Regions from separate parts of the Homo sapiens genome. Here region 1 is linked to region 2. A link means that fine-mapping ties the variant in region 2 to the expression of a gene that starts in the linked region. Tissue or cell type: tibial nerve. Region 2 holds a variant in brackets; the other region holds the start of a gene. All regions are shown on one strand. Distances are between the middles of the regions.

Evidence for each region. PIP is the estimated chance that this variant, and not a neighbour inherited with it, causes the effect.
Region 1: DBF4B starts here. The variant in region 2 is fine-mapped to the expression of DBF4B in tibial nerve (GTEx, PIP 0.90).

What each region holds. Positions count from the first base shown.
Region 1 is chr17:44,706,312-44,711,456 of GRCh38, reverse strand. DBF4B (DBF4B-CDC7 kinase regulatory subunit) reads right to left here and starts at 2,792. Exons shown (of 14, transcript NM_145663.3): 1 at 2,618-2,792; 2 at 2,091-2,153. The coding sequence starts at 2,636. RefSeq lists enhancers at 1,958-2,471, 2,472-2,986.
Region 2 is chr17:44,766,906-44,772,050 of GRCh38, reverse strand. ADAM11 (ADAM metallopeptidase domain 11) reads right to left here. Exons shown (of 27, transcript NM_002390.6): 3 at 2,257-2,333; 4 at 2,003-2,069; 5 at 382-467; 6 at 220-295. Among named protein-coding and RNA genes, the nearest start is that of ADAM11, 10 kb to the right of the region's middle. The variant C/A (reference allele first, on the strand shown) is at 3,088.

The DNA of each region.
Region 1 (5,145 bases), 61 kb after region 2:
GGGAGACTGAGGCAGGAGATTGGGAGACTGAGGCAGGAGAATTGCTTGCACCCAGGGCTTTGAGGCTGCAGTGAGCTATGATTGTGCCACTGTACTCTAGCCTGGGTAACAGAGCAAGTTCTTGTCTCTAAAATAAAATAATAATTTAAAAAAATTTAAAGAATCAATCTGGAGGCCAGGTGTGGTGGCTCACGCCTATAATCCCAGTATTTTGGGAGGCTGAAGCAGGTGGATCATGAGGTCGGGAGTTCAAGACTAGCCTGACCAACATGGTGGAACCCTGTCTCTAGTGAAAATACAAAAATTAGCCGGGCATGGTGGCGTGCTCCTGTAATCCCAGCTACTCAGGAGACTGAGGCAAAAGAATTGCTTGAATTCTGGAGGCAGAGGTTGCAGTGAGCCGAGATGGTGCCACTGCACTCCAGCCTGGGCGACAAAGCGAGACTCTGTCTCAAAAAAAAAAAAAAAAAAAAAAAAAAATCAAACTGGAATAAAAACGAAAATAAAAACCCTCTAAAATCCACACATTATCATCTTATAGTAAATTTTAAGAACAAATATAAAAATGTATAATCTAAAATATTGGGCTGGGTGCAGTGGCTCACTCCTGTAATCCCAACACTTTGGGAAGCTGAGGAGGGTGATCGCTTGAGCCCAGGAGTTGAAGACCGGCCTGGGCAACATGGCAAAACCTCGTCTCTACAAAACAAACAACAAAAAAAAATTAGCTGGGCGTGGTGTTGAGTGCCTGCAGTCCCAGCTACCTGGGAGTCTGAGGTGGGAGGATCACTTGATCCCGGTGAGGCCAAACCTGCAGTGAGCCATGATTGCTCCACTGCACTCCAGCCTGGGTGCAAGACCTCAAAATAAATAAAATAAAACATTTTTTTCTTTCATCAATATAATCCATAGGTTCACATAATCTAAAACATCTAATGAGAAAAGGAGGTCACTTACAAAGCAGCAAGAATAAAAAAGAAATGCTGAAGAAAACAAGGAGAAAATACTGTAATTTTTCAATGTGTTGAAGGAAAAAAAATTGACTTAAATTTTACTACAAGGCTGAAATAAATATATTCTTAGTTTATCACACAAAGCCTCCTTTTGAAAACACTCTTGAAGTTCTCCAGAGAAACAGAAGGGGGAAAAAAAACCAACAAGAGATGGGAAGAATGAATAACTCAGTAAATGAAGTGGATTACTGTTTAAAAGGCAACAAGCCGATGGCATATCTGTTAACAATCCAGAAGTAAAAGTAGACGGTATTTTTTTTTTCTTTTTTTTGAGACGGAGTCTCGCTCGGTCGCCCAGGTTGGAGTGCAGTGGCGCAATCTCGGCTCGCTGCAACCTCCGCCTCCTGGGTTCAATCAATTTTCCTGCCTCAGCCTCCTGAGTAGCTGGGACTACAGGCACGCCTCACCACGCCCGCCTAATTTTTTGTATTTTTAGTAGAGATGGGGTTTCACTGTGTTAGCCAGGATGGTCTCAATCTCCTGACCTCGTGATCCGCCCGCCTTGGCCTCCCAAAGTGCTGGGATTACAGGCGTGAGCAGCCGCGCCCGGCCAACTAGATGATATTAACTAAAGGGGCAGTACGGAGGGAAGTGCCATGTGCTAAAATACTTACCTAATTAGGTAGCAGTGTTTAACTTAAGGATTTTATTGTAAACAACTATGAATGTATTAATTTATATATTTAATAAGTCACTCTATCCTGACTCCACATCTGTCTGTTAATCTTGTTCATAATATGACTCTTACTTGACCTTTATCATGAATCCCAAAACGGTCTATGATGCTGCGTCCATACACACACACACATAAAACCACTAAGTGGGCCTGGTGAAGTGGCTCACACCTGTAATCCCAGCATTTTGGGAGGCCTAGGCAGGAGAACTGCTTGAGGCCAGGAGTTTGAGACCAGCTTGGCCAACACAGCAAGACCCCATCCCAATAAATAAAATGAATAAATAAGTACATAAAAACACTGAGTGATCGAAAACTCCAACAGGGGGAACATTTTTCGGTCTTCTCCAAGAGACCCTGGGGCAATTTTCACCTCACGTCCCTAGTTCTGTCCTGTTACCCACCTAGGTCCGGGGCCCGGAGCCTACTCTCAGCCATGGAACTCTCCAGCTCGAGGCAATCGTCTCCTGAGAAAGGACATAACAGCAACTCAACCATCTTCACCAACCCTTGGAACTTCCATGCCTCCCGCCCACTACTGTCTCCCAAAACGCGCACAGAAACGCGACTCCTGGGAACAGCAAGACTCAACTCCATTCCGACCTACATCCCGCGACTCCCGCCAGGCTCTTGCCCCTCATGCCCTCCGCCTCCTTTCAGACTCCGTTCAGTCAACGGCCGTGACCTCTTGGCCACCTCCTGTCCATCTCAATCTCCATACATCCCTCCAGGCTGTTGTCCCCTACGTTCCTCTGCCACCTTCATTCCTCGGTCCCCTCAACTCCTGTGGCTCCTTCCCGGCCCCTATACCCTCCTCAGCTTCGGCACCTACCCGCTGGTCACTTCCTAAGCCCCCTCCACGACTCCGCACCTCGCCTCAGCTATTAACGACCCCTTCCGCCTTTCTTTCTCCCCTTCCCGGCATCCGTACCCTTTCCCGGTTCGCTCATCAAATGCCGGCTCCTTCTCGGCCTCCGTACTCCTTCCTCAGAGGCCTCCGTATTACATTCGCGAGCTCCATGAGCTCTTCCCGATTCCACAGTCCTGGTTATCTCAGGGCAGCTACAGCATCAATCTCTTGGCGTTTTCGGCCGCGGCTTCAGTTTAAATTTCCTGCCGGCTCCACCCCTAAAAGAACGCCGTAGCTGCGAGATCCGCCCTACGGTGTCCTTGGAAGGACAATATTAGTTTCGCGATTCCTCTTTCCGTTCCCCCACCGCCTACGTCTTCTCAAACCGTCTCTTCATTTCTTGGCTCTTCACTGGCTAGACGGCTTTGCCCCTTAATGGCCCTCAAGTTGAGGACTAGTGGTCGCTTTTTAGTGATTCTTCACACTGAGCTGCATTGAAATTCCTAGAAGTTTGAATACTAAATAACAAAATAAGCCTAACACTTGCAGAGCATTTGCAGTTTACATAAAGATTTCACTTACACATCATTTCATCTTCACATTTTTGTCCCCCTCCCGTTCTTCAATTATTACCTGCCCAACAAAACTTCTCAAAAGACGTATCTTTATCCCTCACTTCCCATCTTTTCTTCAACCCATCTAATTAGACTGCTAATTAGAGATCAAATTTGATCTAATAAGAGATCATTCAGTGGAGAGCTGGGGACCTCCCCACAAAAACTGTACTTATCCAGGTCAACTGTGATTTCCACAGTCTGAAATACTATCCTTATCATATCCAACTTATAGATGGACTATTCCTTCTTTGAAATACTTTCTTCTTTTTGCTTCCATGACTCAGCACTCTACCGTTTTTTTCCCTATCTCAATGGTTCCTCCTCAGTCCCCTTTGCTGGATCCAAAGCCACTGTTCACCTATATATTTTGGAGTATGCCAACGCTTTAGCCCTTATCCCTCTCCCTTATCTCCCTAGGAGATCTCATCCAGCTCCACAGCTTTACAATTCAGCTCTGCCACACCTTCAGATTTTCTGTAGCTCTGACCTGTCTGATCTCCAGACTCACATATTCAAGTGCCTACTGGCTATTTCAATTTGGATGTCTAATAGGCACCTCAGGCTGAACACATTCAAAACAGAACATTTGTTTCGCTGCCCCTGTCAAAAAACCACCTGTTCTCCCCCCAGGTCTTCCCCTCTCAGTAAAATGTTACTGTTTACTCAAATGTCACAATCATTCACCCAGTTGCTCAAACCAAAAACCTAGAAGTTGTCTTTCAGTACTTTCCCTTGTGCCCATCCCCACTCCAAGAAAAAAATCCTACTAACTCTGCCTCCAAAGTACATCTGGAATCAGACCACCACCACCCTAGTTCAAGCTGCTATCATTTCTTGCCTAAAGTACTGCGGTCAATTCTTCACTTCTACTCCCGAGTAGCTTCCTATCTCTCCCCAGTATAATCCATTCTCCATTCAGCAACCAGAGTGATAGTTTTTATATTTATTTATTTTTTTATTGAGAGGGAGTCTCGCTCTGTCGCCCAGGCTGGAGTGCAGTGGCGCAATCTTGGCTCACTGCAACCTTTGCCTCCCGGGTTCAGGCCATTCTCCTGCCTCAGCCTCCCGAGTAGCTGGGATTACAGGTGCCTGCCACCATGCCCGGCTAATTTTTGTATTTTAGTAGAGTCGGGGTTTCACCAGGTTGGCCAGGCTGGTCTCGAACTCCTGACCTCAGGTGATTCATCCGCCTCGGCCTCCCAAAGTGCTGAGATTACAGGTGTGAGCCACCGCGCCTGGCCCAGGGTGATATTTTTTAAACACTGGTAGAGGTATATACAGTACATAAACTTGGTATCTCTTCCAGTGGGACTCCTCCCTGAGGAAGCTTATACATCTCAGCCCTGATGAACGAACGAAGCCTTGGCCATATGACTTGCTTTGGCTCATGAAAAAAGAAAAAAGTGACATCACTTCCAAGCAGAAACTTTAAGAGGCAAGATGGTTCAGCATGTTCTTTTTTCACATGTGTGACAGAATTTGTATAATAAAGGTATCTGCCTCAGCATTGTTTGCAATACCAAAAGATCAAAAGCAACGAAAATATTGATTAACAACGGGCAGTAGGTTAAATAAATTATGGTGTAGTCATACTGTGCAACACTATGCAACTCCAAAAAATGAAAATACTTTAAAATATAAATGTATTTAGGGAATCCTAGCCAGAGCAATCAGCAAGAAAAAGAAACAAAAGGCATCCAAATAGGTAAAGAGAAAATCAAATTATCTCTGCTTACTGATGATATGATTCTATAGCTAGAAAACCATGAGGACTCCACCAAAAGGCTCCTAGACCCAATAAATTACTTTAATAAAATTTTAGGATTAAAAAAAAGTCAACACACAAAAATCAGTAGCATTTCTATACACCAATAACGTTCAAGCTGAGAGCCAAATCAAGAATGTGATCTCATGTACAACAGCCACACACACAGGCTGGGCATGTTGGCTCACACCTGTAATCCCAGCACTTTGGGAGGCTGAGGAGGGTGG
Region 2 (5,145 bases):
TGGGAGGTCACTTATGGGACAGATGGGACATTGGAGCTGGGGGCACAGGGGGAGCTGGGGCACAGGAGGGAGGGAACCAGAGCTGGGGTCACTGAAGAGGGCAGTGAGGCTGGGGTTACTGAGGGAGGAGCCGGAGGAGGAAGAGGTGGCAGCAACAGCTGTTGGGACAAGCTTGGCAGGGCCACCAGAGAGGATGGCAAGGGGTTGTGTGGGGCTTACCTGAGGGGCTCCCCAAGGTCCAGCCACCTCTTGGGGCTCCACGATGTAAGTCAAGTTCCCATCAGAGAAGACCCCACTGTGGAGAGAGAGGCGCAGCTCCCCTCCGTCCCCAGGCCTGGGCCAGAGGCTTCTCCCAGCTGCCCGGCCCCTCCCCATACTCACTGCAGCCCCTGGCAGGTGGAGAGGGCGGCGAAGGAGTGCGGGTTCCCCCGGAGCTTCCCCTGGTAGTAGCAGTGGTCTCCAGCCCCCTGAAGGAGCAGAACAGTGAGCAGAACGCTGGCATGAGGCCGGGGGCAGCCAATGGGCCTCAAGGCTTTTTGGGGGACACTGAAGCTGCCCTGTGTGCAGGTGGCCACAATCCCTGGGTATGCCTGGGGCTCTGGAGCCTGTTTCTAGATGGCTGGTGCTCCTAATTTGCCGTGCCACCCTGGGCAAGTTCCTAGCCCTCTGGGGTTAGGAACCTCTGGGCCTCCTTCACGTCATCTATAAAATGAGGAAGCTGGACTGTAGCAATGGTTTTTTTTTTTTTTTTTTGAGACAGGGTCTTGCTGTCGCTCAAGCTGGAGTGCAGTGGTGTGATCTTGGCTCACTGCACCCTCTGCCTCCTGGGTTCAAGCCATTCTCATGCCTTAGCCTCAGCCTCCCGAGTAGCTGGGATTACAGGCATGTGCCACCACACATAGCTAATTTTTGTATTTATTTATTTATTTATTTTTTGAGACGGAGTTTCGCTCTTGTTGCCCAGGCTGGAGAGCAATGGCATGATCTCAGCTCACTGCAACCTCCGCCTCCCGGGTTCAAACAATTCTTCTGCCTCAGCCTCCCAAGTAGCTGGGATTACAGGCATGCACCACCATGCCTGGTTAATTTTGTATTTTTAGTAGAGATGGTGTTTCACCATGTTGGCCAGGCTGATCTCAAACTCCTGACCTCACGTGATCCGCCCACCTCAGCCTCCCAGTGATGGGATTATAGGAGCCCAGCGTACAGCAAGGGTTCTTAGCCATTTGCTGGGGCTGGGGAAGGGATCAGACTCCTTTGAGAATAACAGGCAACATTTATTTAGCACCTACCATGTACCCAGCACTGCTCTGGCACTAACCATATATTACCTCATTTAATCATGTACTCGCCCCTAACATCACACACAACCTCATGCACTGCCTCCCAGGACACCCCTGGGCCTGTGGTTGGCTGAGGAGTGATGGGCAGCATGTGTCCTCCTGGCCAGACTCATGGGTTGGGGCTGGGGGGACCAGTGGCACCCTCCCGCTCCAGCTCTGCCTCCTGCAGAATTACTTGTGCTCCAGTTACTGAACAGGCAGTGGGGGCGGGGGGGGGGGAGACAGGCTATTTATAGACACTCATTCATTTTCAGGCTCTAGAGCCTTCAGGGCTGGGACCCTAGTGTCCCAGGCAGCTGGGATTTTCGGGGCCTTGATATTGAGTAAGAAGGGCCTTTCCTCAGCTGTCCCTCTCAGAAGAGTCTGGAGAGGGGGATTCCTGGCAGCCTGCTCGGAACGAGTGTCCCTGTAGGCCCCACGTGGGCTGGCTGGGGGTCAGAGCTCTGGGGCCAAGTGAGGGGACTTCAGGGCCCTATGCACTCAAGCTGCCCACTGTCCACCCTCAGAGCCTCCTGGGTCGGGAGAGAGGGAAGGTGCTGAGGGGCCAGGCCCAGGACCCCATCTCCAGTGGCCACCTGTCCCTACACCTGTGACCACAGAACCACAGAAACAGCACCTCCCTTCCATCCCCGGCCCCGGTCCCCTGCAGTGGCACTCACGGTGCTGTGCTGGGTTGTCCCCTCCCGGCTGAAGTGGCGCTCCACGTATTGCGAGGAGAGGAGGTGGCTGAGACAGAGGGGGCAGCAGGAAGGGGGGTCACGGGCGAGGTGAGGTCGGGCTTGAGGCTCGCCTCAGGTCAGGACCCAGGTCCCCTCTGCCCAGGCCCAACCCCCAGACCCCCAGCAGCCAGGCCCTAGCCATGTCTCCCCCGCCCCACCACTGCCCTTCCTCTTGGGCTCAAGGCCACACTCACTGGTTCAGCTCCAGGTCCAGGGTGAAGTTTGAGTTGAAGGCTGGGATGACGAAACTCACCTGGGCCAGATGGACAGGCTGGGTGGGGGGAGGGCAGAGGGGGAGTCAACCCAGGGAGGCCTGAAGGTGGGAGTCGGGGGGATCCCGGGAGCAACAGTAGCCCTGGGGAAGGGGTGGCCAGCCCTAGCAGCTGAGGGGACCATTGATTTGGGGGCAAGATGCTTTGTCCAAGCTCCTCTTCCTCCACGACCCTGCTCCTTTACTAGTGGGCAGAGGCAGGAGTGCTCAGCCCTGGGCACAGCCCCCTTTCTGCCCTCTGGGCCCGGGCACCTGTGCATCCTCTCTGGGGCTGGGCTGCAGGTGCAGCTGGGATGGAGAGGGGCAGCCCGGCCAGCCCTCTGCCTCATTATGCCCTCCTGGCTGGTGAGGGGCACCCCACCATCAGGCAGAGTAACGGGAGGGCCCCAGGAGTATCATGGGAAAGGGACAAACAGGAAATGGGAGGCAGGACCCTCGCTGCCTGTCCCCCTACCCCGGCCCCAGCCTCCATCTACATAGGAGGCCTCGGACAGGGGCGAATGGGTGGGAATGGATGGCTAGGCCCCTGGAAACTGGGCGACGGGCAGGTGCCATCCTGTTGGGAGTAAGGACTTGGCTCCTCTACCCCCAAATCCATTGCCCTCTGCCTCACCCAAAGCAGCTCATCTTTAATATTTCAATCCCATGGTTAATTTTTAAACATGGAAGTTTTCCTGATAAATTTTTCAGAGTGCAGTGGGGCTGGAGGCTCCAGGTTGCCACAGCAACACACCACGCCAGAGCAAGATGGCGG[C/A]CCCCCAGGCCTGGGCGCTTGAGGACGCCTGGATCACAGCAACCGCAGGGCCCAGGAAGGGCTGAGAGGACTCAGGGCTGGGGCCTTCTCCACACCCCTTGTTCATTCCAGAAGACTGACTCCAGACCCCAACATGAGGGTCACCCACTCTGCCCTGCAAATGGGAGGCTTTTGTTCGCTGCCTGGCCTTTGTGGTGGGGACGGCAGGTTGCAGGAAGGAAGAGAGCCCCAAGGTTGTGGTCATGAAATCCATAGCCTGTGCCTTGTCGGCTTCCTCCTCAACCACCTCATCACTGCTAATCTTTACCGAGCACTTCTTGTGTGCCGGGCCCTGGTCTAAACACTAAGAGTATTGCCCTGTTTGATCTTCGCAGCAACCCTATGGGATAGATTACTGCCATTCCCATCTGAAAGGAGACAGGCACAGTGGGGCTGACTAACTTGCCCAAGGTCACACAGCTAAAAAGTGGTGAAGCTAGGGAGTCTGCTTCTAGGGCTGTCTCACCCCAAAGGTGGAGTAAAATGGAAGAGGGCCCAGTGTCCATGAGAGGTCCTGGGAGAGGAGCAAGGGGGGCACCAACGGCCAGGGCCTGGGTGGGCTGACCTTTGCGCCCCAAGGACACCGACTCACCCTATTCCAGGCTGACCAAGGCTCCCAATTCCATCCTGAGCCCCTAGAGCATTGATCAGCCCGAAATAGAAAGTCAAGGACAAGGAGTCGCCACATCCTCTTCCCGGCCCATGGCCTGAACCATCCTGGCCTTCCCCTGCCCCTGGGACTGTTCCTGCTTGTTCTATCTGCCTCCCACCAACAAGCCCCTATGCCAGCCCCCTCCACAGCTGCCTAGAGGAGCAGCCTGCCAGACCCCTTGCCCCAATGCTGCTCTCTGACCGTGCAGCCCCAGGGATGACCCAGCAACCTCTCTGTGCCTCAGATTTTCCCACTGAAAATGGTCAGATGAGCCCAGATGCGAGGCCAGGAGGTTGGCTACGTATTGGTACCATCCTGGGCCTGGAGATTCCAGCAGAGTCTGCCCTGGCACCAACAGAATCTCCCTCACTCAGGAGGTCTGCGAGCCACCCCATCAAGCCTGCTTCCTCTCTGCAGAGGCCAAGCCAGTCCCCACTCTGGGGAAAGCCCCAGCTGATGGGGGATGAAGGCCAGATACCTTAAGAGCCTCCTTGTCCACCACCTCCTGCCACCTGCTGAGCTCTCACCACTTCCCCATCTGGTGCAGCTGAGCCCAGCAGGACACAGGGCTCAGACCAGATAAGCCCCTGGGGCAGTGCCGGGGCAGCTGGGGCTGGGGGCTGGGCCTGGCTGGAGGTGGCCCAGGAGGGGGCTGGGAGAGCCCCCAAAGGCGGTAGGAGAAAGAAAGAGACCACATACCAAGGGGTGTTTGCCTGGCCTGGCCCCATGCGGGGACACAACCCTGTCCCTGGTCTGAGGGAAGAGATGGGTCACACAAACCTATCTCAGTCCCCAGAATCTCTGTGGCCCTGGCACCTGGGGAGTGGGGAGGGGACTCCTGCTGGCACAGAGTCCCAAGACCGCCCCAAGCCCGCCCAGCATTAGGCCAATGTTCTTTTTTTTTTTTTTTTTTTTTTTGAGATGGAGTCTCACTCTATCACCCAGGCTGTAGTGCAGTGGTGCAATCTCAGCTCACTGCAACCTCTGCCTCCTGAGTTCAAGCAATTCTCTGCCTCAGCCTCCCGAGGAGCTGGGATTGTAGGTGCCTACCACCACGCCCGGCTAATTTTTTTGTATTTTTAGTAGAGACAGGGTTTCACCATCTTGGCCAGGCTTGTCTTGAACTCCTGACCTTGTGATCCACCCTTGGCATCCCAAAGTGCTGGGATTGCAAATGTGAGCCACCATGCCCAGCGAATGTTCTTTTTTTAAAATTAATTAATTAATTTTTTAAGAGATGGGATCTCACTGTGTTGCCCAGGCTGATCTTGAACTCCTGGGCTCAGACCATCCTCCCGCCTCAGCCTCCCAAAGTGCTAGGATTACAGACTTGAGCCTCCATGTCCAGCCTAAGCCAGTGCTCTATC